Homo sapiens: one gene and its partners. The protein of the gene in region 6 purifies or fractionates together with the protein of the main gene of each other region. This does not show direct contact. Each region holds a gene or a part of one and is shown on either strand. Other genes may lie near its edges.

Evidence for each region.
Region 1: the proteins of OPRL1 (region 6) and PTDSS2 purify together in Homo sapiens (affinity purification with mass spectrometry; one large-scale study listed by BioGRID and IntAct). This does not show direct contact.
Region 2: the proteins of OPRL1 (region 6) and CLN3 purify together in Homo sapiens (affinity purification with mass spectrometry; one large-scale study listed by BioGRID and IntAct). This does not show direct contact.
Region 3: the proteins of OPRL1 (region 6) and TMEM164 purify together in Homo sapiens (affinity purification with mass spectrometry; one large-scale study listed by BioGRID and IntAct). This does not show direct contact.
Region 4: the proteins of OPRL1 (region 6) and ADIPOR1 purify together in Homo sapiens (affinity purification with mass spectrometry; one large-scale study listed by BioGRID and IntAct). This does not show direct contact.
Region 5: the proteins of OPRL1 (region 6) and ATP1A3 purify together in Homo sapiens (affinity purification with mass spectrometry; one large-scale study listed by BioGRID and IntAct). This does not show direct contact.
Region 7: the proteins of OPRL1 (region 6) and TUBGCP4 purify together in Homo sapiens (affinity purification with mass spectrometry; one large-scale study listed by BioGRID and IntAct). This does not show direct contact.

The regions. Positions count from the first base shown.
Region 1 is NC_000011.10:456,779-460,278, forward strand, and holds part of PTDSS2 (phosphatidylserine synthase 2), read left to right. Parts: intron 1-3,408; coding exon 3,409-3,500. UniProt on the Homo sapiens protein: Catalyzes a base-exchange reaction in which the polar head group of phosphatidylethanolamine (PE) or phosphatidylcholine (PC) is replaced by L-serine. Catalyzes the conversion of phosphatatidylethanolamine and does not act on phosphatidylcholine.
Region 2 is NC_000016.10:28,479,427-28,482,074, forward strand, and holds part of CLN3 (battenin), read right to left. Parts: intron 1-2,648.
Region 3 is NC_000023.11:110,009,614-110,013,113, forward strand, and holds part of TMEM164 (transmembrane protein 164), read left to right. Parts: intron 1-3,500.
Region 4 is NC_000001.11:202,948,313-202,951,812, forward strand, and holds part of ADIPOR1 (adiponectin receptor protein 1), read right to left. Parts: intron 2,853-3,500; 5' UTR 2,759-2,852; coding exon 2,618-2,758; intron 109-2,617; coding exon 1-108. UniProt on the Homo sapiens protein: Receptor for ADIPOQ, an essential hormone secreted by adipocytes that regulates glucose and lipid metabolism. Required for normal glucose and fat homeostasis and for maintaining a normal body weight.
Region 5 is NC_000019.10:41,980,731-41,984,230, forward strand, and holds part of ATP1A3 (sodium/potassium-transporting ATPase subunit alpha-3), read right to left. Parts: intron 1,377-3,500; coding exon 1,178-1,376; intron 1,102-1,177; coding exon 992-1,101; intron 907-991; coding exon 772-906; intron 1-771. UniProt on the Homo sapiens protein: This is the catalytic component of the active enzyme, which catalyzes the hydrolysis of ATP coupled with the exchange of sodium and potassium ions across the plasma membrane.
Region 6 is NC_000020.11:64,086,582-64,090,081, reverse strand, and holds part of OPRL1 (nociceptin receptor), read right to left. Parts: coding exon of another isoform or gene 3,483-3,500; intron 458-3,482; exon of another isoform or gene 323-457; intron 1-322.
Region 7 is NC_000015.10:43,377,601-43,381,100, reverse strand, and holds part of TUBGCP4 (gamma-tubulin complex component 4), read right to left. Parts: intron 3,255-3,500; coding exon 3,198-3,254; intron 1,018-3,197; coding exon 938-1,017; intron 1-937. UniProt on the Homo sapiens protein: Component of the gamma-tubulin ring complex (gTuRC) which mediates microtubule nucleation.

The DNA of each region.
Region 1 (3,500 bases), on a different chromosome or scaffold from region 6:
GTCTCTCAGTACTGAAGGGCCCCACGGTGTGGAGCTCAGCAGGAAGGCTGAGGTTCCCTGCGGTTTCCTCATGGCTTAGGACTCAAATGCAAATGTATCTAAAGAAAAAGGTGGTTGATAGTCACAATGAAACTTTTATTTACCTCTGGTTGTCTTAAATGCCTAGTATTGTAAAATATGGCAGAAGAATTCACTTTCATGCCTGTAATCCCAACACTTTGGGAGGCCAAGGTGGGCAGATCCCTTGAGTTCATGAGTTTGAGACCAGCCTGGAAAACATGGCAAGACCCCGTCTCTACAAAAAATACAAAAAAATCCAACCTGACCCACATGGCAAGACCCCATCTGCACAAAAAATACAGAAAGTTCCAGCCTGGAGCCTCCACCTGCAGTCCTGCAGCTCCACCCTGGCTCTTCATGAAATCGGCTAAGTCCAGGTGTGGGTGCGTTCAGTGCAGCACCCACGTGCAGGTGACACGCCCATGCACCGCCACAACCACGCTCACACCAGAACATTCCATCATCCGGAAGGCCCGTGTCTCCGCTCCAGTCTGCTTTTCGTGGATGCAAACTCATTTCCTTGAGTCGTGTGTGGGTGACAGCAGATGGGAGGTTTCTTTTGTGCCTGGCGTCTGTAGCGTGTTTTTCTTTTTCTTTTTTTATCTTTTGAGACGGGATCTCACGATGTTCATGATGTTGCCCCGGCTGGTCTTGAGCTCCTGGCCCAAAACAGTCCTCCTGCCTGGGCCTCCCAAGGGGCGTGTCTTTGAGATCTATCCACGTTGAGGTCGTTGCCAGCAGCACATTCCTCTGAGTGCTGAGCCATGCTCCGCTGGTCGGAGGGACCACAGTGTTTCCTCCACTGATAGAGTTTTGGTTTGTTTCCCGTTTTAGGTTATTATACCTGAAACATCTGCATGTAAGTCTTTGACTGGACCTGTGTTTTCATCTGTCTCAGGCCCACGTTTGGGAGTGTGTCTTTGACTGGACCTGTGTTTTCATCTGTCTCAGGCCCACGTTTGGGAGTATGTGGCTGGCTGGATAGCAGACGTAGCATAGGCCTCACTTTTCTGTGCCGTTTTGCAGTCCCACCTGCAGTGCGTGAGCATCTTGCTCCGAGACCTCACCAGCACTCTGCATTGTGATGTTCTTAATTTCAGCCGTTCCAGCAGATGTGCACTGATGCTGTGTCGTGGCTTGGATTTGTGATGCTTTTAATTTCAGCCGTTCCAGCGGATGTGTACTGATGTGTCCTGGCTTGGATTTGCTTTCACGGTGACCAGTGCTGCTCCTCGTTTGTTCATGTGCTTATTGGCCATTTGTATGTTTTCCTTGTGAAGTGTCTGTTCAATTTTTTGCCTATTTTTTCATTAAATTGTTTATTGAGCTGTATGAGTTCTTTATAAATTCTGGATAAAAAGTATTTTTTTTCTTTTTTTTTTTTGAGATTGAGTCTCGCTCTGTCGCCCAGGCTGGAGTGCAGTGGCGCGATCTCGGCTCACTGCAGGCTCCGCCTCCCGGGTTCACGCCATTCTCCTGCCTCAGCCTCCCGAGTAGCTGGGACTACAGGCGCCCACCCACCACACCCGGCTAATTTTTTGTATTTTTAGTAGAGATGGGGTTTCACCGTGTTAGCCAGGATGGTCTCGATCTCCTGACCTCGTGATCCGCCCGCCTCGGCCTCCCAAAGTGCTGGGATTATAGGCGTGAGCCACCGCGCCTGGCCTGATTTTTTTTTTTTTTTTTTTTTTTGAGACAGATCTTGCTCTGTCTCCCAGGCTAGAGTGCAGTGGCACAATCATCCTAGCGCACTGCAGCCTCAACCTGGGCTTAAGCGAATCTGCCACCTCCCGAGTAGCTGGGACTACAGGTGCCTGCCACCACGCCTGGCTAATTTTTTATAGAGATGGGGTCTCACTGTGTTACCCAGTCTGGTCCTGAACGCCTGGGCTCAAGCAATCCTCTTGTCTCAGCCTCCCAAAGCGTTGGGACTACAGACGCGTGCAGCCTACAAAGTTTTATCAGATATATGTATTGTGAATATTTTCTCCCAGTTTGTGACTTGCCTTTTCATTTCTTTAGGGCACAAATAGTTTACATTTCATGGAGGCAAGTCCTGGGCAACATGCTTTAAGTGCATTGTTCACTTAATTTTCATGATGTCCTTGGAAGTCAGAAGCTTCCCCATTTAGATATGAGGAAACTGAGGCACGGAGGGGTGCATCATCTCTCCAAGGACACACTCCAGTGGATGTAGGACCTGGGTTAGACGTGAGGACACACTCCGGTGAATGTAGGACCTGGGTTAGACGTGAGGGGACACTCCGGTGGATGTCGGACCTGGGTTAGACGTGAGGACACACTCCGGTGGATGTCGGACCTGGGTTAGACGTGAGGACACACTCCGGTGGATGTCGGACCTGGGTTAGACGTGAGGACACACTCCGGTGGATGTCGGACCTGGGTTAGACGTGAGGACACACTCCGGTGGATGTCGGACCTGGGTTAGACGTGAGGACACACTCCGGTGGATGTCGGACCTGGGTTAGACGTGAGGACACACTCCGGTGGATGTAGGACCTGGGTTAGACGTGAGGACACACTCTGGTGGATGTAGGACCTGGGTTAGACATGAGGAAACTGAGGCACAGAGGGGTGCATCATCTCTCCGAGGACACACTCCGATGGATGTAGGAACTAGGTCTCTGCCTCCATTTGCAGATGGTCATGCAGAGGGGGTCTCAGGCGAGTGTCTGGCACAGGCAGTGGCTGGGGTCTGGTGGCCCCCAGTTCTGATACTAGGCTGGTTGTGGGCTTTTCCACCAGCGATGGGACAGGACAAGACTGCAAAGGGAGCGCCCTGCCTCCTCCTCCCACGTCTGGGCTCTGACAGGCCAGAGGACGGGCAGACCCACGGCTCGTGGCTCACTCCAGCTAGCAGCGGTCACTCTGCAGGCCTCTGCTCAGGCCCCTTCTCAGCTCTTGGTGTCTTGGGCTGCTGCACTGAATCTCAGATGTTATTTCATGAACCCAAAGAGTTGTTGTCTCGGCTTGTCTTGCGCAGTGAAAAGCGCGTGTTTTACGTGTCCAGTTGCTCTTAATAGCAGATACCTGCCCTGGACGCCAGTGGCAGCATGTGCCCTCTGAGCAGCGGCCTTCAGCTTCCCAGGAACACGGGGCTCTTCCTGTCCAGCCTCCTGGGGGCTGGTCTCAGCCCTGACTGGCCAGCAGACGCAGGGTCATCTCGGAGTTACCCAGCTAGGGACTCGCAGCCAGTTGCTGGTTGGGAGTTGGAGAGTGGAGTTTAAGCCCTCTCCTTGACGTAGAGAGGATTTGGGGCCTGTTACGTGAGTATTTAGCAATGCTGCCCAAGCTCTGACACCATGCTTATGCGTTTTTGGATTTCAGGCGAGCCCACACCTTAACCGTGCTCTTCATCCTCACCTGTACGCTTGGCTATGTGACGCTGCTGGAGGAAACACCTCAGGACACGGCCTACA
Region 2 (2,648 bases), on a different chromosome or scaffold from region 6:
AAATACAAAAATTAGCCAGGTGTGGTGGCACGTGCCTGTAATCCCAGCTACGCAGGAGGCTGAGGCAGAAGAATCGCCTGAACCTGGGAGGCGGAGGTTGCAGTGAGCCAAGATCACGCCATTGTACTCTAGCCTGAGCTACAAGAGCAAAACTCTGTCTCTAAAAAACAAAACAAAACAAAACAAAACAAAAAATTTGCTGGGCGTGGTGGCGCACCTGTAATCCCAGCTACTCGGAAGGCTGAGGCTTGAGAATCGCTTGAATCTGGGAGGCAGGGGTTGCAGTGAGCCAAGATTGCACCGCTACATTCCAGCCTGGGCAACAGAGCGAGACTCCATCTCAAAAAACAAAACAAAACAAAAAACATTATAGCTAAAAACATGTAGCTTAAAACCATAAGCTACATGTTTCAGTGGTATCTACAAGCACCCTGAGTTATAAATTTGGGGTTTTGTGGGTACAAACCCTGGGCTTGCAGCACTGCTCAGATAAATAAGGAAGGAGGCTGGAGGATATTTACATGCTTTTGCCATAATATGAAAGTGTAATCTTTTTTTTTGAGATAGGGTCTCACCCAGGCTGGGGTACAGTGGCATGATTATGGCTCACTGCAGCCTGGAACTCCTGGGCTAAAGCGATCCTCCTGCCTCAGCCTCCCGAGTAGCTGGGATTACAGGTGAATGTCACCACACCCTGTTGTTGTTTTTTGTAGAGATGAGGTCTCGTGATGTTACCCAGGCTGCTCTCTCAAACTTCTGGGCTCAAGCAATTCTCCCACCTGGCTTATTTTTTTTTTTAATTTTTTGTAGAGGTGGGGGGTCTCACTATGTTGTCCAGTCTGGTCTCAAGCTCCTGGCTTCGAGTGATCCTCCCACCCTAGCCTCCAAAAGCATTGGGATTACAGGTGTGAGCCACAACACCTAGCCTAAAGTATAATCTCTATTTCTGTATTTTGCTATCACAGAATTGAGTTCCTAAGTCTTTTTTTTTGGAGATGGAGTCTCGCTCTGTGGCCCAGGCTGGAGTACAGTACTGCAATCTCGGCTCACTGCAACCTCCATATCCGGAGTTCAAGCAATTCTCCTGCCTCAGCCTAGCGAGTAGCTGAGATGACAGGCAGGTGCCACCACGCCCAACTAATTTTTGCATTTTTAATAGAGACGGGGTTTCACTGTGTTGGCCAGACTGGTCTCAAACTCCTGATCCTGACCTCAGGTGATTCACCTGCCTTGGCCTCCCAAAGTGCTGGGATTACAGGTGTGAGCCACCAGGACTGGCCAAGTTCCTAAATTTCAAAGGCAGAAGACTTTCCTGTCACAGTTGACAGTTTATTGTAACAGTTACCTGCAGGGGCTGTGGATTTGTAACCTTGAAACAATGAATGCTGGTTATATGAAACTCCTTTTATTAGACTGTTGTAAGGAAGGGTGTTTGCGCCCTTAAAGCTGTAAACTACTGTTTGCCAAGGGCAGTTGAATTTGCTCACCACCCTCAAGATAAATAACCCACTGACTTCAAAGTCACCAATTCTATTATAATTAACTATCTAGAATAAAAGAACTGTACATTTTCTTATAGTTAGAAACATTATTTGAAAGCCTGTCTCTTTGCCTGAGGTAAATGACCTATGATCATGCCACTGTACTCCAGCCTAGGCGACAGAGGAAGGTTCCGACTTTTCCTTTCTTTTTTCTTTTTCTGGGAGACAGGGTCTCGCTCTATTGCCTAGGCTGGAGTGCAGTGGCATGACCTTGGTTACTGCAGCCTTGACCTCATGGGTTCAAGTGATCCTCCCACCTCAGCTTCCCAGTAGCTAAGACTACAGGTGTGCGCCACTGCACCTGGCTAATTTTTGTAGAGATGTGATTGTGCCATGTTGCCCAGGCTGGACTTGAACTACCAAGCTCAAATGATCCACCTGCCTCAGCCTCCCATAGTGCTGGGATTACAGGCATGAGCCACCTGGCCCGGCCCAATCCCAATGCTTAAAACACACACACACACACACACACACACACACACACACGCACACACACACACACACACACTACAAAATCTTGTTCTTCGATTCTTTCTCTCATCTCTATTTCTTACAACTACCCTGAAAAATAGGTATTGGCCACACCCAATTTATACATGAGGAAATTGAGGCTCAGAGAGGTTCTGAGACCTGCCCTAAGTCACACAGTGGCTGAGTACTGAAGCTCAGTTTTGCTTGGCTCCTGAGGCTATACATTTTACATGGAGCTCTGCTGGACTTTGGTTCCCTGTGCTAAGAAATGATAGTGTACAATTTACACTTCCCTGTAATCCCAGCACTTTGGGAGGCTGAGGCCGGCAGATCACCTGAGGTCAAGAGTTCAAGACCAGCCAATATGGCAAAATCCCATCTCTACTAAAAATACAAAAATTAGCCAGGTATGGTGGCGGGCGCCTGTAATCCCAGCTACTCAGGAGACTGAGGCAGGAGAGTCACTTGAACCCGGGAGGCAGAGGTTGCAGTAAGCCAAGATTGCGCTACTGCACTCCAGCCTGGACGACAGAGCGAGACTCTGTCTCAAAAAAAAAAAAAAAAATTTACACTTCCCACTGATAGTGGGAAGCAGGGGGTTTGGGGAAGCTGGGAGCCAAGCTGGGAGCCAAGGTG
Region 3 (3,500 bases), on a different chromosome or scaffold from region 6:
CCTGGATAATGGTGACTGAATGATTGATGGAACTGACTTTTTGCTTTCCTTTTTTCTTTCTCCACTGGTGGCCCTATGTTCCTATTAAGAGAATCTTCCAGCCAGGCATGGTGGCACACGCCTGTAATCCCAGACTTTGGGAGGCTGAGGCAGGCAGATCACGAGGTCAGGAGATTGAGACCATCTTGGCTAACACGGTGAAACCCTCTCTCTACTAAAAATACAAAAAATTAGCCAGGTGTGGTGGCACGCGCCTGTAGTCCCAGCTACTCGGGAGGCTGAGGCAGGAGAATCGCTTGAACCGAGGAGGCAGAGGTTGCAGTGAGCCGAGATCCCGCCACTGCACTCCAGCCTGGGTGACAGAGCAAGACTCTGTCTCAAAAAAAAAAAAAAAATCTTTCTGCCTGTTTTTTGAAATAGCCACAGGAGTGAGGCAATCTCAGCTCCTGCTCACACATCTTTTTGTAGAATTTCCATCACAAAGAATGGTTATTAGAATCTCTACTCTTGGCCCAAAGTGTCTGTTTGCTTTTCTCCCAATCAGGAAATCACACTGTTGGATCTTGATCTTAATCTCTTGGACATGCCAACTTTCTTGCTTCTTAATATCATATAAATAAAAAATGTTATTAAGCCAGAGACTTACTTTTCCTTTTTCTCCCCTCTTCTCTTTTTCAGTGGATACCTCATTGTTATGCCTCATTGAAATGAAGAGCTAGGTTTCTCTGCTTCTCCTGGTCTTTCATATATTTTGTTAAATTGAGAATGTCTTGTCTCACGTGCTCCTCTCCTGCCAGGAACTGGCTGAGTGAATGCGAAGAGACTCTGGATGTGGAAAGCGGTGATTGTCAAACTTTATTTGTAAAAGAGTCTCTTGGAAGCTTGTTATAATGCGGATACCTTGTTCTCTACATGGTGATTCTGAGCAGGTCTAGGGTGAGGATTGGAATCTGCATTTATACTCGCTCTTGGGTGATTCTAATGCTGGTCAGCCTTGGACCCCACTTTTAGAGACATTATCTAGTGGCTGAAGTAATTAGGTGGGAAGTTGGTTTCAGTGCCCATCCTAATTGAGCATGAGTCTGGGTGATCTGTGGGCAAGGCATTAAGTGTTCTGGCACCATCTCAATACCTGTTAAATAGTGTGATTCAGATTAGAGGATGAGGGCCCCAAGTTATTGTGAAGAGGGTTTTAAGGTAGCTGTAGAGTTCCACTGGCTTGTTTGGTGACTGTTAGTTATGTCAATGGAGTATTTCAACCAGGCCACCTTTATTACCTTCCAGTGATATATGGAATATATCCCTCCAGTCCTTCTATATCCCCCCGCTTTCCAGTCTCTAAGATCTGCAGGGACTAACAAGAGGGAATGTTGACACATGGTTTGTTGTATGCTAACTCTCTGTTTGCAGGACTGTTGTTTTAGATGTTCGTGGGAGTTTATTCTTTCTTGCGTTCACTCAACAGATATTTATCGAATGCCTATTGTGTGCCAAACATTGGTGCCAGGTATTGGAGATTCAAAGAGAAATAAGAAGCAGTCATTGTTGATGTACTTTCAAAAACAAAACCAAAAACAAAAAAAAAAGAAGAAGTAGCCTTTGCCTTCATTTTGTTCACAGTTTTGATGAGATGGACAAGGAAATAGATCAACTAAATTACAACATTACATGTATAGTAACAGATTTGAACAAAGCATAGGGGACAGGGGTCTTTTTTTTTCCTAATGCAATTAAGGAAAGCTTCCTAGAAGAGGTGGCATTTGAGCTGGCTCATGTTAGCTCCATGAAAGCAAGGACCCTTGGTTTTTGTTCTCTTAGTGCCTAGAACAGGGACTGGCTCTAGTAGGTGCTCAATAAATGTATTTGAATGCGTAGGAATTCATTGGGTGATGGAGGAAGGAAAGCAATTCTAGGCATAAGAAACAATAAGTGCAAAGGCTATGTGCTATCTCCCCATTTCTCCTATTTAATATCTATTCACTTACCCAGGGTTCAAGTAGACAGGAAGAGGATGGATGTGGAGAGCAGTGATTATCAAACTTTATTTGTGAAAGAATCCCTTGGAAGCTTGTTATAATGTAGATGTCTAGCTCTCTTCATAGCAATTCTGAGCAGGTCTAGGATGAGGATGGGAATCTGCATTTATAAGAAACTCCCAGATGATTCTAATGCCTGTGAGCCTTTGACCTCACTTTGAGAGATCCTACCATAAGTTCGCAGAGTTGCTTCCTCCTTCACAGAAAAGTGTCTCAACTGTAACCTGGAATTATTTGCTTATTATTATCAGGGGTAGATGTCTTACTTCTCCCTTGGCCAACTAAGTGAAACTCTAGGAATGCTCTGTCATTTCTAGGCTGTTGATAAACGACCTGCAGATGCCCTTGAATCCTCGATAGGGGATGAGATAGAAAATTGTGTTCTCTGTGCTGTCCCAAGGAGGGCCCACACTGTCAACAACAGAGGCACACAACATTGGGGTAAGTGAACAGACATTAAATGTGAGAAATAAGGAGATAGCAGGCATCCCACCTGCAACCAGTAGATGCTTTTTAGTGGCTTGTGGATGGTTGCTGCTCTAAAGTCCACAGCAGCACTAATGAAGTGTGGTGCCATCTTTCTACCTTTCTTTTTCATATCTCTTCTTCCCTGTTTCCAAGTCTGTCCACCTGATCCACCCCACACAAGTTCCAAAACAATCCTTTCTATAATTCAAAATGCCCATCTCATCAGAGGAGATGATAGCCATGGGGGATTAGGAAGAAAGCAGTTTTATTTCAGAGGTTCATACTGAAATGTGAGTGGACAGACTCCACTGGGCGTCAGGGAGAGGATGAGTTTTAAAAAAGGGCCTTGTTACCCTAACATTATATCTAATTGGTAGACTGTGTCTAGTGTTTTTAAGCAGATGTCCTTTCTCATGTGCCTTGCTCAGGTTTTGGCCTCTTCTCTCCCGCTAAAGCCCCTGATCAGGAGAACTGGAGTTATCCATGCCTTGCCACCCTACATGCTGACCCCCAGGGTTTCATATTAATGTAAATCTCCCTCCACAGTGCTTGGATGCAGCAGTTAATCTGAAGGCCTGGCGAGGACCCCTCTTCTGGGCACCAGTCAGTCCTCTGTGTTTACTCAGCTCTTTCCTGGCTACACAGGGCAGCGCTTGCACATCTGTCAGTTCATGGGCATCAAGGCACTTGGACCTGTTACCAGCATGAGATCCTGAAGGGAAGGGTTTGGGGGATCTCTTGATTGGTTTTGGTTCCCGTCTAGTAGCTGCTGGAGGAAATGGCAGAGGGAGGAAGGATAATATGAGTTTTATTCTGAGCTGGGTGGTGTTGAGGGAAGGGAATGGATTGCAGGAGCCAGGAGGTCAGACAGGATTGGCCTGTTTGGCGAAAACAGTGCAAGCTCTGCCCTGTGGCCATGTGTTTAGGTGGGTAGGAGAGGGAGGAGTGAGATCATCTGGAGGGGAAAGGAAGCATGGTACCATCCTAATTCTAGCC
Region 4 (3,500 bases), on a different chromosome or scaffold from region 6:
AAACTCTTCCATCTTCTCCATGGCGTGGTGGGCTTGCAGGGGAAGTGTCAGTACCCGCACCTCCTCCTCTTCTTCCTGGGGCACTGGGCATGTTTGCTCTTCTTCAGCCTATGGGGGAAAAAACCCACAACAATCCAGGGAGTCATCTCATAAATTGTACTATTCCAGAGCAGAGAGACCCAGAAAAACCCAAACCTAATGCCTTCTGCCCAGCCTCTTTCCTACAGAGGGTCTTGTGGTCTCTTCTCCAAAAGCATACACACTGAGTTTACAACACTAGTTAGAAATTTATTAATACTTCGTAAATGCTGGAGTGAACATTCTATGCAGTGCGTAAAAGAAGGACTGTCACAGAGACTAGCATTGGGGGAATACACCAGCTCTAGGTACTGAATGACATCCTTTTCTTTAGGATAGTGGTTCTTAACTTTCCTCAGTTTCCCAAAGAGTTCTCTTTTCTAAGCCATTACATTTTCTTTCTTTCTTTTTTTTTTTTTGAAATGGAATATCCCTCTGTCACCCAGGCTGGAGTACAGTGGTGCGATCTCTGTTCACTGCAACCTCCGCCTCCCGGGTTCAAGCAATTCTCATGCCTCGGCCTCCAAGTAGCTGGGATTACAGGCGCCCACCACCATGCCTGACTAATTTTTGTATTTTTAGTAGAGATGGGGTTTCACCATGTTGGCCAGGCTGTTCTCAATCTCCTGACCTCACGTGATCCTCCTGCCTCGGCCTCCCAAAGTGCTGGGATTACAGGCTGAGCCACCATGCCCAGCCTACGTTTTCAAAACAACGAAAAAGACACAGAGTCTCAGAGAGTTCCATAACAATAATTCTGTTCAGAGTTCCCTGTTCACTGACTCTAGGGATGCTGTCATGATTGAAACTTTGTATCTACAGCAGCTCCCAGGAGTACCAGGGCCTCAGAACTGGTTCCATGGAAAACAGCGGTACTGACTCCAGGGCCTAAAAAAGCGCACCCAGAGGGCCGGGCGCGGTGGCTCACGCCTGTAATCCCAGCACTTTGGGAGGCCGAGGCGGGCGGATCACGAGGTCAGGAGATCGAGACCATCCTGGCTAACACGGTGAAACCCTGTCTCTACTAAAAATACAAAAAATTAGCCGGGCGAGGTGGCGGGCACCTGTAGTCCCAGCTACTCGGGAGGCTGAGGCAGGAGAATGGCATGAACCCTGGAGGGCGGAGCCTGCAGTGAGCCGAGAACGTGCCACTGCACTCCAGCCAGGGCGACAGCGAGACTCTGTCTCCAAAAAAAAAAAAAAAAAACACACCCAGGAGAGCACTTGCCTGTGAAAGGGAGAGAACTTTCTCTCTCTCTATCCCAAGGCTCCGAATCATGGCTATAGAAAGCCTGGCAGTTCAACTCCTTTTCTGGGCTATTTCTCTCCTGTTGCTGATGGTCACTAGTAAACACATGGTCCATCTTAGATTTTGTGCTACAGCTTCCAGCCAGTCTACCCTAACATCCATTCTCTCTCTTCCTAAGTAACAAAGCCCACGGTTTTGTTCAGGGTGGCAATGTTACTGCAATTTTACTCAGGCTGCACTTTCTAACCTCCACTGCAGCTGAATATAGTTATGTAAGTAAGTTCTGGCCGAAGTCTTATGAGGTACTTCCTGATAGTCCCTTTATTTATTTTTGTTTTTTCTGAGAGGGGGTTTCACTCGTTGCCCAGGCTGGAGTGCAATGGCACGATCTCGGCTCACTGCAACCTCTGCCTCCCAGATTCAAGCGATTCTCCTGCCTCAGCCTCCCGAGTAGCTGGGATTACAGGCGACTGCCACCACACCCAGCTAATTTTTGTGTTTTTAGTAGAGAGGGGGCTTCACTATGTTGGCCAGGCTGGTCTCGAACTCCTGATCTCAGGTGATCCACCTGCCTCGGCCTCTCAAAGTGTTGGGATTACAGGTGTGAGCCACCGTGCCCGGCCCTGATAGTCCCTTTAAAAGGCAAAGAGTTGGCCGGGCACAGTGGCTCATACCTGTAATTCCAACACTTTGGGAGGCTGAGGCAGGAGGATCACTTGAGCCTAGGAGTTTAAGATCAGCCTAGGCAACATGGCGAGATCTTATCTCAATAAAAATAAAAGGGAAAGAGAGGGCCTTTCTTCTCGTTTCCCTTTCATGGGGGGTAGAATGTGGGTATGATGGGCACATATTAAGAGTGATGGGAGAGCAACACAGGTGCCTGACAGTGGTGGATCCTCCATATCAGCCCTGGATTGGTTACTTCTGAAATTCTTTTGCTTGAGAGACTTCTGTCCTGTCAAAACTGTAAGGATTTTTGTGTGTTATATGAAGTCAAACCTAATCCTAATTGACTGCTTCCTTCATTCATTCAGATATTTACTGATTATTTATTGGACTGCAGGCCTTGTGCTAAGCACTGGTGTTACAAAGATGAGTGCATTCCCAAAAGCTTACAATGGGGAAAGCAGACAACAAGATGTTTATAACAGTATCATAGGGACTTGGATAGAGACATTTCCAGGATGCAATGTTCCTCCTTTTGGACGGTGAGCTCTTAAAAAAGAGAAAATGACAGAGTTCTAAGGAGAGAAACTGAACAAGGGGATGACTCCTGGGAAGATGACTTACTTTGGGTGGGTTGGCGATTACCCGTTTGCCCTTCTCTTCTAGCAGGGGTCCCAGTTCAGCCAGTTCCACCGTGTCAGCTTCCCTGTTACTGGCAGGAGCCCCATTCCCCTGTGCCACCACAGATCCTTTGTGGGAAGACATCTGGCTGGTACCTCAATACCCTGCAGCTTCAGCTTGGGGAAAGGTTGGGGTCTCTCAGCCCCAGGGGGCAGAGATCTCCCTCTGATGGTAGACACTAAAAGAAAATACAAACATGAAGGATTGACAATTTATTCCTCTTACAGTTTCATTTCTATACTCTAATACTGAATAAGAAGCTAATCAACTCATATCCTGTCCCCAATTCTAAAGGCCAGTTAATTGCTTAAATGAAATCTATTCCTGTCCTCCCTCTTTAATGTCAACCTTTACCCAGAACCTCACTAATCTTATAGGTAAGGCTGAAAATGTAACACCTAGTTGCTTGCTTTCATATGATCTATGGTTACTGCACCAAACTGTCACCATAGAAAAACAGCTACCCACCCTCAACTCCCTCCCACAGGTATGGAACCATTTAGTGAGAAGAATCTCATCTATCACTCCCAAAGCTCACTCTGCCCAAGAAAGGCCTAGCTCTGAGACCGAGGAATAAAAATATAAAGCCAACATCTGGCTGCAATTACTACAAGATCATCCAGGCTTAGAAATGAATTAAATGCCAACTGAACTCAGTTAGACCTTATCTACAAATGCTCTGATAAATGTGTCATACATACAAAAGGAACTTGGTTGTGGGACAGATGCCTAGTGGTTAATTTCTCTGCGAAGTCTACTAATTCTATTACAGGATTATAGCCTGAGTTCAACCCTGGGATAACAAGCTTTCATCACAATCTGTCCT
Region 5 (3,500 bases), on a different chromosome or scaffold from region 6:
GAAACCCCGTCTCTACTAAAAATACAAAAAATTAGCTGGGCATGGTGGCGGGCGCCTGTAGTCCCAGCTATTCTGGAGGCTGAGGCAGGAGAATGGTGTGAACCCGGGAGGTGGAGCTTGCAGTGAGCTGAGATCGCGCCACTGCACTCCAGCCTGGGTGACAGAGCGAAACTCTGTCTCAAAAAAAAAAAAAGTTTGCTGAATAATTTAAAGTTGCTGCTCTGCCCCAAGAGGTCTCCTGCTTGTTCCCACTCTCTGCTGTAGGAAAACTTTTTTTTTTTTTTTGAGTCAGGGTCTTGCTCTGTCACCCAGGCTGGAGTACAGTGCGTGATGTAGGCTCTCTGCAGCCCCAACCTCCCCGGCTCAGGCAATCCTCCTGCCTCAGACTCCCAAATCGCTGAGACCACAGGCACATACCACCACACCTGGCTAATTAAAAAAAAAATTTCGTACAGATGGGGTTTTGCCATCTTGCCCAGGCTCGTCTCGAACTCCTGGCCTCAAGTGATCCCCCCACCTCAGCCTCCCAAAGTTCTGGTGTTAAAGGTGTGAGCCACCGCGCCTGGCCTGCAGGAAGATCTTTACTCCTCAGCGTCTCACTCCAACAGAGATCCGGCTCCCACTCTCAAGCTCTCCCTGTTCCTCTCCCCACCAGGCGGGTATTATCATTCCCATTTTACAGACGGGAAAATCAAGGCTCTATGACACCTCTTTACAGGCGTCATAAGGAACCTGAGGTCCAGGCTGGCTCTCCCGGAAAGCCCAGAGTACCTGGTATTTGTTGGTGGAATTGAAGGGAATCTCAGCCACTTTCTTGTTGCGTTCACGCATCAGCTTCACGGAGCCAGAGGACAGCTCGATGCACTTGAGCAGGGCAGACTCAGACGCATCCCCAGCCACATCCCTCTGCAAGGAGAAAGGGTTGTCAGAACAGGGACAGCTGAGGGGAGGACACAGGCAGGGCCGAGGTGAGGCCAGTAGCTGAACCCACCTTGAGCACAGGGATGTTGTCCTGACCACCCTTGAAGACAGCGCGATTGCAGAGCCCAGCGATGTGAGACAGGGCCACCCAGGTGTGCGAACTCTTGTCAAATGAGGTCCCTGGGGGAGGCATGTGTGAGGGCCAGGGACTCCTGGAGCCAGGCCCCCATGGTCCTCACCCGGGGCCTGCGCTCACCTGACTGGTCCTCAGTGGTGTCAGCCTCGTGGATCTGGTTGTCAAACCACATGTGGGCGACTGTCATGCGGTTCTGAGTGAGGGTCCCTGTCTTATCTGAGCAGATGGTGGACGTGGAGCCCAGGGTTTCTACAGCCTCCAGGTTCTTCACCAGGCAGTTCTTCCGGGCCATGCGCTTGGCGGTCAGCGTCAGACACACCTGGAGGACGAGCAAGGGCAGGCAAGTTACAGGGACAAGCCCGGCAGCAGGGTTGGATGAGCGACACGAGGGCCACAGCCCAGCTGCCCAGCCCCCAGAGAATCCTGAGGGCCTGGAAAAGAATGAGGCAGCACCCAGCAATGCCACCCCCAATTCAGACCAATAGAAACAGGGCAGAGACACCCAAAGACAGGGACTAGAATGCTCATAGCAGCCACATGCATAATAGTGCAAAACAGCCAGGTGCAGTGGCTCACGCCTGTAATCCCAGCACTTTGGGAGGCCGAGGTAGGCGCATCACTTGAGATCAGGAGTTCGAGACCAGCCTGGCTAACATGGTGAAACCCCATCCCTACTAAAAATACAGAAATTAGCAGGGCATGATGGTACACTCCTGTCATCCCAGCTACTTGGGAAGCTGAGGCACGAGAACCCCTTGAACCCAGGAGGTGGAGGTTGCAGTGATCCGAAATCGTGACACTGCACTCCAGCCTGGGCAACAGAGTGAGACTCCAACTCAAAAAAAAAAAAAATTGTCCAAAACTGCAAACTACTCAAATGTCCACTAACAGCAGAAAAGATAAATTGTGGACAATGGAATACTAACATTGATAAAAACAAATACATTACTGCTGCCTGCACCTGCATGGGTGAACGTCAAAAACATGTTCAGCCAAAAAGAGCCAGAAATGAGTTCATACTGAATTATTCCGTTAATAGGAAGTTTGAACACAGGCAAAGTTAATCTATGCTGTTAGCAGCCAGATCAGGGGTTACCCTTGGGTTGGGGGGCAGGGGCTAAATAAGGTCTTGAGGGGGCTTCAGGGAGACGCAGTCTCGTTGCAGCTGACGTGATTCTGTTCAGTTTGCCCCAAATCATCAGACTATGTGCTCACAATATGCTTAATCCTTTGCGTATAAAAATCCATTTGACATAGGGTAGCATTCAACATTGCTAATATGGAAAACAGTAAACTTTTTTTTTTTTTGAGACACAGTCTTGCTCTGTCGTCCAGGCTGGAGTGCAGTGGCTCGATCTCAGCTCACTGCAACCTCCACCTCCCAGGTTCAAGCAATTCTTGTGCCTCAGCCTCCCAAGTAGCTGGGATTACAGGCGCCCACCATCACGCCTGGCTAATTTTTGTATTTTTAGTAGAGATGGGGTTTTGCCATGTTGGCCAGGCTGGTCTTGAACTCCTGACCTCAAGTGATCCACCCACCTCGGATTCCCAAAGTGCTGGGATTACAGGCGTGAGCCACCCTGCCCGGCCCTAATATGGAAAACTTCACATAAAACATTAAGTCAAAGAATGAAAGAGGAGAATGGTATTTCTAAGATAGTCCCTGCCATGCACCTTGAAGACAGCATTTAGTCAATATGCTCACAGCTGTCAGGCGGAACCTCACAGAGAATGGACTTCTGGGGTGAAGCTGGCAGCAAAGCAGCCAGAGAAAAAATTTTTAAAAATAATAATAATAATTATTATTATTATAATAATTATTATTATTATTATTTTCTTGAGATGGAGTCTCCCTCTGTCACACAGGCTAGAGTGCAGTGGTTCAATCATGGCCCACTACAGCCTCAACCTCCCGGGTCAGCCTCCCAAATAGCTGGAACTACAGACATGTACCACCACGCCTGGCTAATTTAAAAAAATTTTTTTTTTTTTTTTTTTTTTTTTGAGACAGAATCTCGCTTTTGTCGCCCAGGCTGGAGTGAGGTGGCACGATCTCGGCTCACTGCAAGCTCTGCCTCCTAGGCTCAAGCTATTCTCCTGTCTCAGCCTCCTGAGTAGCTGGGATTCCAGGCACCCATCACCACGCCTGGCTAATTTTTATACTTTTAGTAGAGATGGGGTTTTGCCATGTTGGCCAGTCTGGTCTCGAACTCCTGACCTCAGGTGATCCACCCGCCTCGGCCTCCCAAAGTCTTGGGACTACAGGCATGAGCCACTGCGCCCAGCCTTCACATTTTTTGGTAGAGATGGGTTCTTACTATGTTGTCCAGGCTTGTCTCAAACTCCTGACCTCAAGCAGTCCTCCTGCCTCAGCCTCCCAAACTGTTGGGATTAAAGGCGTGAGCCACTGCGCCAGGCTTATTATTTTATTTTATTTATTTAT
Region 6 (3,500 bases):
GACACCTTTGGGAACAGGCAGACACAGACCAAGGCCCTCCGACACCCAGAGGACACACACATGCACAAACACGCTCTCCAGGCAAAGCTCGAGGGTGAGCCCCCTGACCTCAGGAGCCGAGAGGGGGCAGGAATCCAGGCAGGCTCGGACTCCTGCAGCCCTCCGCCCCAGCTGGGCTCACCAACGTCTGAGCAGGAGACCCTAGACCCTCCTACCCGAGCTTCCTGAGCCTGCCTCCCAGCCTGGGACCCAGCCTGGGCACTGTAGGCACTGAGGGTGGGCAGAGCAGAGACCTCGTAAGGGAAGGACAAAGGAGCCCAACCTGATGTCCCCGGACCAGGAACCAGTGTCAGAGGCCAGGGCAGAGTGTGGGACACAAGCACCTCATCCCTGCTACTGCAGACACCTCTCCCTTCGCATGTCTGTCTTCCACCTGGGTCACCCCACAGCTTCCTCCCTACAGGCAGAGACAGGGAGGATGAGGGGTTGGGATGGGGAGGAGGAGGAAAGGGAAAGGAGTGGGGAGGAAGTATGGAGAGATCAAGAGAGAGGATGGGTAAGGAAGGATGGGAGAAGAGGGAGGAAAACACGCTGGGGATAGGAGGACAGGAAGAAAGGAGGGGGGACGAGGTCAGACCTAGCTCCCTGACCCCCACCTCTTTTGACCCCAAGCCTTCTCACCCAGCAATAGCAACCAGCCACCTGCACCCCCACCAAGGCAGCTCCCAGCTCTGCCTTGCCTGGCCTTTCAGGAGTCAATAGAGACCTCAACTCCCTCTGTGGGAGCCGTTCAGGGTCCAGCAGAAGGCCGTGGCCTCCCCAGTCCAGGTGTTCACAATCTCATAATGTGTTCCCTTGAACTTCTTGTGTGTTCTGTGTCATTCTGCCCTGACATGTTCATAACCATAGAACCCAGGACAGCTTCTCCCTCCCTTGTGCCTGCGGCAAACCCCCAGCACAGACCCTGGCATGCTGAACAGCCTAGGCCCCCTGCGCAGAACCTGCCCCCCACCCACATAGACCCCTAGCCCACGGTACAGACCTTGCCCCCTGCATTGACCCTGCGCACCTGCCTGCACACAACCTGTCCCCCCTGCAAAGATCCTGCCCCCTTGCAAAGACCCTGGCCACTCTGCACAGATCCTACCCCTTGCACAGATCCTGGCCACTCTGCACAGACCCTGGCCACTCTGCACAGACCCTGGCCACTCTGCACAGACCCTGCCCTCCCTGCACAGATCCTGCCCTCCCTGCACAGATCCTGGCCACTCTGCACAGATCCTGGCCACTCTGCACAGATCCTACCCTCCCTGCACAGATCCTGGCCACTCTGCACAGATCCTACCCCTTGCACAGATCCTGGCCACTCTGCACAGACCCTGGCCTCCCTGCACAGATCCTGGCCACTCTGCACAGATCCTGGCCTCCCTGCACAGATCCTGGCCACTCTGCACAGATCCTGGCCACTCTGCACAGATCCTACCCCTTGCACAGATCCTGGCCACACCTGCAAAGATCTAGTGCCCCCAAAACCTGGCACAGACCGTGCCCCCACCCCACATAGATGCTATCCCCGTGCGTAGATCTTGGTCCCTCTGTACAGATCCTGCCCTCCCTGGACGGGTCCTGTCCCCCGACTCCCTTGAACAGACACTGACTCCCAATGTAGATCCTACCCACTGCACAGATCCTGGCCCCACTGCAAAGATCCTGCACGCTGCACAGATCCTGTTACCCCCTAAAAGTCCTCCCCGCAGAGACTCCTGCCCCCATGCAGAGATCCTGGCCTCAATGCACAGATCCTGGCCCATGTGCAGATTCTGGCCCCTTGCATGGATCCTGCCCCACCCCAGCCAGCTCCAGTCCTACCTCCTCCAAGAAGCCTACCCCAGGACCCCCAGCCCTGGGAACCTTCCTAACTTGGCCATTATTCAGTAATACGGCTGCCAGGCTAGGCCTGTGAGCTCTGGTCTCAGCAGATATCCTCTGAGAGTGTGGTCAGCAGAGCCCCGCAGGAGGCAGGCACCTGGCCCCTCACAGGCGCAGTCTTAGAGTGAAAGACAGGCCTGGTCACCTGGCTAGGGGATTGGCCAGGTGTGACACTGACAGTGCTCCCTGGGGTTGGCAGGGGCCCAGCCCTGGACCCAGAAACGCTCCCACGGAGGAGAACTGGTGGTGCAGATGAAATGGCCCAGGTATCTCTAGACCCCTAATAGAGTCCTGCCCTCCCCCAACCTGCCAAGGGTGGGGTGGTCCCTCCAGAAGGGGGAAGGTAGAATCAGGGTCCTATATAGAACATATATGTTACACAAGAGATAGCAAGAGGCACATGTTATATGAGAGAGCAAGACAACCTCAAACACACATGTTCTGGGCAGGCGAAACAATATGCAAGGATACTAGGGATAGCCCAAGACACGAACGATGACACGCGAATGACAGCACAGAGCTTGTGTGCGAGGATACTAGGGATAGCCCAAGACACGAACGATGACACGCGAATGACAGCACAGAGCTTGTGTGCGAGGATACTAGGGATAGCCCAAGACACGAACGATGACACGCGAATGACAGCACAGAGCTTGTGTGCGAGGATACTAGGGATAGCCCAAGACACGAACGATGACACGCGAATGACAGCACAGAGCTTGTGTGCGAGGATACTAGGGATAGCCCAAGACACGAACGATGACACGCGAATGACAGCACAGAGCTTGTGTGCGAGGATACTAGGGATAGCCCAAGACACGAACGATGACACGCGAATGACAGCACAGAGCTTGTGTGCGAGGATACTAGGGATAGCCCAAGACACGAACGATGACACGCGAATGACAGCACAGAGCTTGTGTGCGAGGATACTAGGGATAGCCCAAGACACGAACGATGACACGCGAATGACAGCACAGAGCTTGTGTGCGAGGATACTAGGGATAGCCCAAGACACGAACGATGACACGCGAATGACAGCACAGAGCTTGTGTCCACAGATTAAAGCCTGACACAGGCTGCTCTTGGAGCTCCTGGGTATTTGGGCAGGCCTGGGTTCCGGGGTGAGATTCACACCCACTCAGCAGGCAAATACACACACCTCACTCTCATCCAGTGACTCAGAATCAGCAAACGCCAGACGGCAGCTGGAACACTGTCTTTTGTCCTCCCCACTCCCACCCCCAGGGCAGGCACAGTCTACCCTCCTCCTTCCACAGGCTCACCACCCTGGGCTGGCCAAGAACAGGAATCAAGGCAGAGGGTCTGGCAGCCCCTCACAGAGCAGCCATCCCCCAGGGAAGCCAGTCACCAGGCCGCACATTTGTGCTATTAAAAAAGTGAAAGAATTTTTAACAATTCTGAGTTTCATCAAAATAAATTACTTTGTCCTTGTGATTTTAACTTTACAAAATCTATATACAATGACAAAAAAAATTGAGTTGTAGCTTCTCAATATCATGTTAAATTTTGTAGTCATTAATAAAGCTTACTAATTTGACTTGAAGTTT
Region 7 (3,500 bases), on a different chromosome or scaffold from region 6:
GTGCGGTGGCTCACACCTGTAATCTCAACACTTTGGGAGGCCAAGATGTGAATATCGGTTGAGCCTAGGAGTTCGAGACCAGCCTGGGCAACATAGCAAAGCCTTCTCTCTACAAAAAATTAAAATAAAATAAGAAAAAAAGAACAAAACAGAGTTGTGAGTGGCCTCAGGGATCATCTATTATAATTTTTCAATGAATGTCACAGTTTTTTTAAAATAAGGAAAATGGATAAATGGAAAGCTCAAACAGGCAGTCTTTGATTATACTCTACATGTTTTCATATTGTTGTAATCACAAGATAAATACAATTTTGTATCATTTGTCAGTACATATTTATATAAAATAGTTTACATGTTATAGTACCTACACTTTTAGTGGCTTTATAGTCTATCAAGTGAATATATCATCATTTAAATTTTTTTCTACTGTTGGTAATTTTCTAATTTCCTGATATAGTAGACAACATTGCAATGAACACGTTTGTGCATATAGTTATTTTCTTCTATTAAATAGTTTTGTTAGGATAAAATTCCCAAGAGTGGCATTATGGGATTATAAAGCATAAACATTTTTAAGGACCTTCAATTTGAAAATACCAGCTACTCAAATACACATGTTTAGACACAGCAAGCAACATCTGGCACATGTAATGGAATTCCTGCAAGGATAACAGGATCTAAACATTTAAAAAGATTGCCTCAAGGTCATCCAGGCACCTAAATCCTGGCTTTGTCACTCAACACTCTATAGCCCTTTTTGCAAGGCCTGAGCCATAATAAAGGTTACATGGGCTCCTCTGCTCATGGAGCTTTTTCTATCCTGGTTATAACCTTCCCAAGAGGGAAACCTGAAATGACCTGAAAATAAAACATGTGAGAAGTCAAATAATTTGACCACCCACCTCCACCACCAATTCCCAGTTAAGCCATGACTTACTTTTCCAGTGCACTTCGAACAGGAGGCAACCCCCCACAGCTGTGTTTGTAGACTGTTTCCAGGATTTGACAACCATGAATCTGTGGAAAATACGGCCTTGTCAAACTGGATTCCATTCTAAGAGTCCATGCAAGACACATTCTTATTCCATATTCAACCAAGAGGGCACAATCTAGGAGAGACTGGGGATAAACTTTCTCCTAAGATTTACACATAGTGGTTCTCAAAGAGGGACCTCTCTCCCATCAGCAGCATGACCTGGAGACTCATCAGACATGCAAACTCTTGGTTAGAACCCAGCACTCAGTGTTTCCACAAGCCCTCCAGGTGATTCTAATGCACAGTAAAGTGTGAGAACCACTGCACTTAAAGCAACCAGAATCATTTAGAGTTGGAACACCAAAGCCAAGGAAAGCTTTTTATTTCAAGTTAAGGCCCAATTCAGTCTACTTCTAAGGTATATACTTTTTCAAAAATCCTCTGCCTCTATGTTCTTCAGACTTTTTTTTTTTTTTTTTTTTTTGAGACGGAGTCTTGCTCTGTCGCCCACGCTGGAGTGCAGTGGTGCAATCTTGGCTCACTACAAGCTCTGCCTCCTGGGTTCACACCATTCTCCTGCCTCAGCCTCCCGAGTAGTGCGACACAGGCACCCGCCACCACGCCTGGCTAATTTTTTTTGTATTTTTAGTAGAGACAGGGTTTCACTGTGTTAGCCAGGATGGACTCAATCTCCTGACCTCGTGGTCCGCCCGCCTCGGCCTCCCGAAGTGCTGGGATTACAGGCGTGAGCCACCATGCCCGGTCCCCAGACTTTTATTTTTACCACTTTGAGGTATAATTTACAATGAAATTCACCCATTTTAAGCATACTAATAAACAATTTTTAGTAAATTTCAAACACTGGGCAACCATTACCACAATCCAGTTTTATAACATTTCCACTACTCCAAAAAGCGCCTTTGTGCCTGTCTGCAATCAATCTCCATTCTCAACCCAAACCTAGAATTTTGACCACCTGATTTTAAAAACTCTGAAGAGCCTTGGTACACTAGTTTCTCTACCACTATTCTGGCAGGGAGGAAGATTCAGCCATCTGCAATCCCCCTATTTTCCACTCTCCTTCCTATAGCCAGCGGAAGTTGAAGGCCAACTGAGACGTGCAGCTAGGCCTGGCTCCCTTATGCTGTCCTCATTAACTCTATTTGCCTAGAATGTCTCCTTTTATTTTGGGAGATAGTTTAATCTAGTGGTTAAGAGCACACTCTTTGGAGCCAGATAGAGCTGGGATATAAACCCATTTACTACTATCTGTGTGACACTGGGCACACCCCTTAACCAACTTAGCCCTTTAGTGGATTGTGTGTGATAATGTATTTAAAGCACTTAGCACAGTGCCTAGTACACAGCCAGTGACAGTAAAAGCTGGATGTTGTTATTTGATGAGGACAATCAGCTTTGAAGGGCCAATGAGCACCCACCACTGGCTTTGCTGGCACAGCATGAACATAGCAGAGCACTGTTTCTACACTTACACAGTTAAAAATGATGCAGCAATGTGGCAGATTAACTGGTTTACTAGTTACATTAATGAAAATGAACACCCCTAATAAGCTAAGGCACAAATAAAGAGCTTAAAAAAAATGACGACTTGAGCTAAAGATGTTTAATCCATTTGTCCACTTGGTCCAATTGTGGACCAATTCAATAGGACAGCAGATTCTTCTAATATGAAATCTCAAAGCATTTATTCCTCAGACTTATTAACTCTGCCCAGAAAGACATTCTCCTAACTTCTCAATACACCTGATAAAAACTTGTGATAAGAATAGGCATATTTATTAAACATCTGGCTTTCACTCACTGATCTCAAAATTCTCAGAAAACTGCCAGCACACTAACCATAAACCTATTACCTTCTTCCTAAGAATTAACTTTCTGCTTCACACCCAACAGTTCTAAAACCTTACTGCAGGTTCCTCTCACCTGCAAACATCCACAGCACTTTTTTTCTTACCCCAACAACATTCTTGGGAACATCTATGAACATTTCCTCTACCTTCTGGACCAGGAGGTGTTTAAAGGCAGAGTCATACTTTTGCATTCCTGACACTTAACATGATAACCAAGCAGATATTGTTAAATGAATGAATAAATAAAAACTACTAAAAACTAGGGTCTTCGAAAAATAATGTAAAGCAAAATTAATTAGTAATATTCCCTCAGTGCTTAGCAAAGCAAAAGGAATAAGGAAAGTTCTCACCTTTTGACTTTTAATTTGTTCTACTACAACCATCACAGAGGGAAAAAGAAGCTGGAACTGCAAAGTAGAGAATAATTAGAAGGGTATGTAATCAAATGTAAGGGAAAAAAAATCAACTTGGGAAATGCTTTTGTTTCTAAATAGTTCAACTTAAGATAAAATGGCAATACCACAGAACAGTCAAGATCCAGCATCCTAAGGCAATTTGATGTGGAGGTTCGCTGCAGATAGGAAGAGGATGGCAGAGAGAGGCAGTTTCTTTTTTTTCTTTTTTCTTTTTTTTTTTTTTTTTGAGACAGGGTC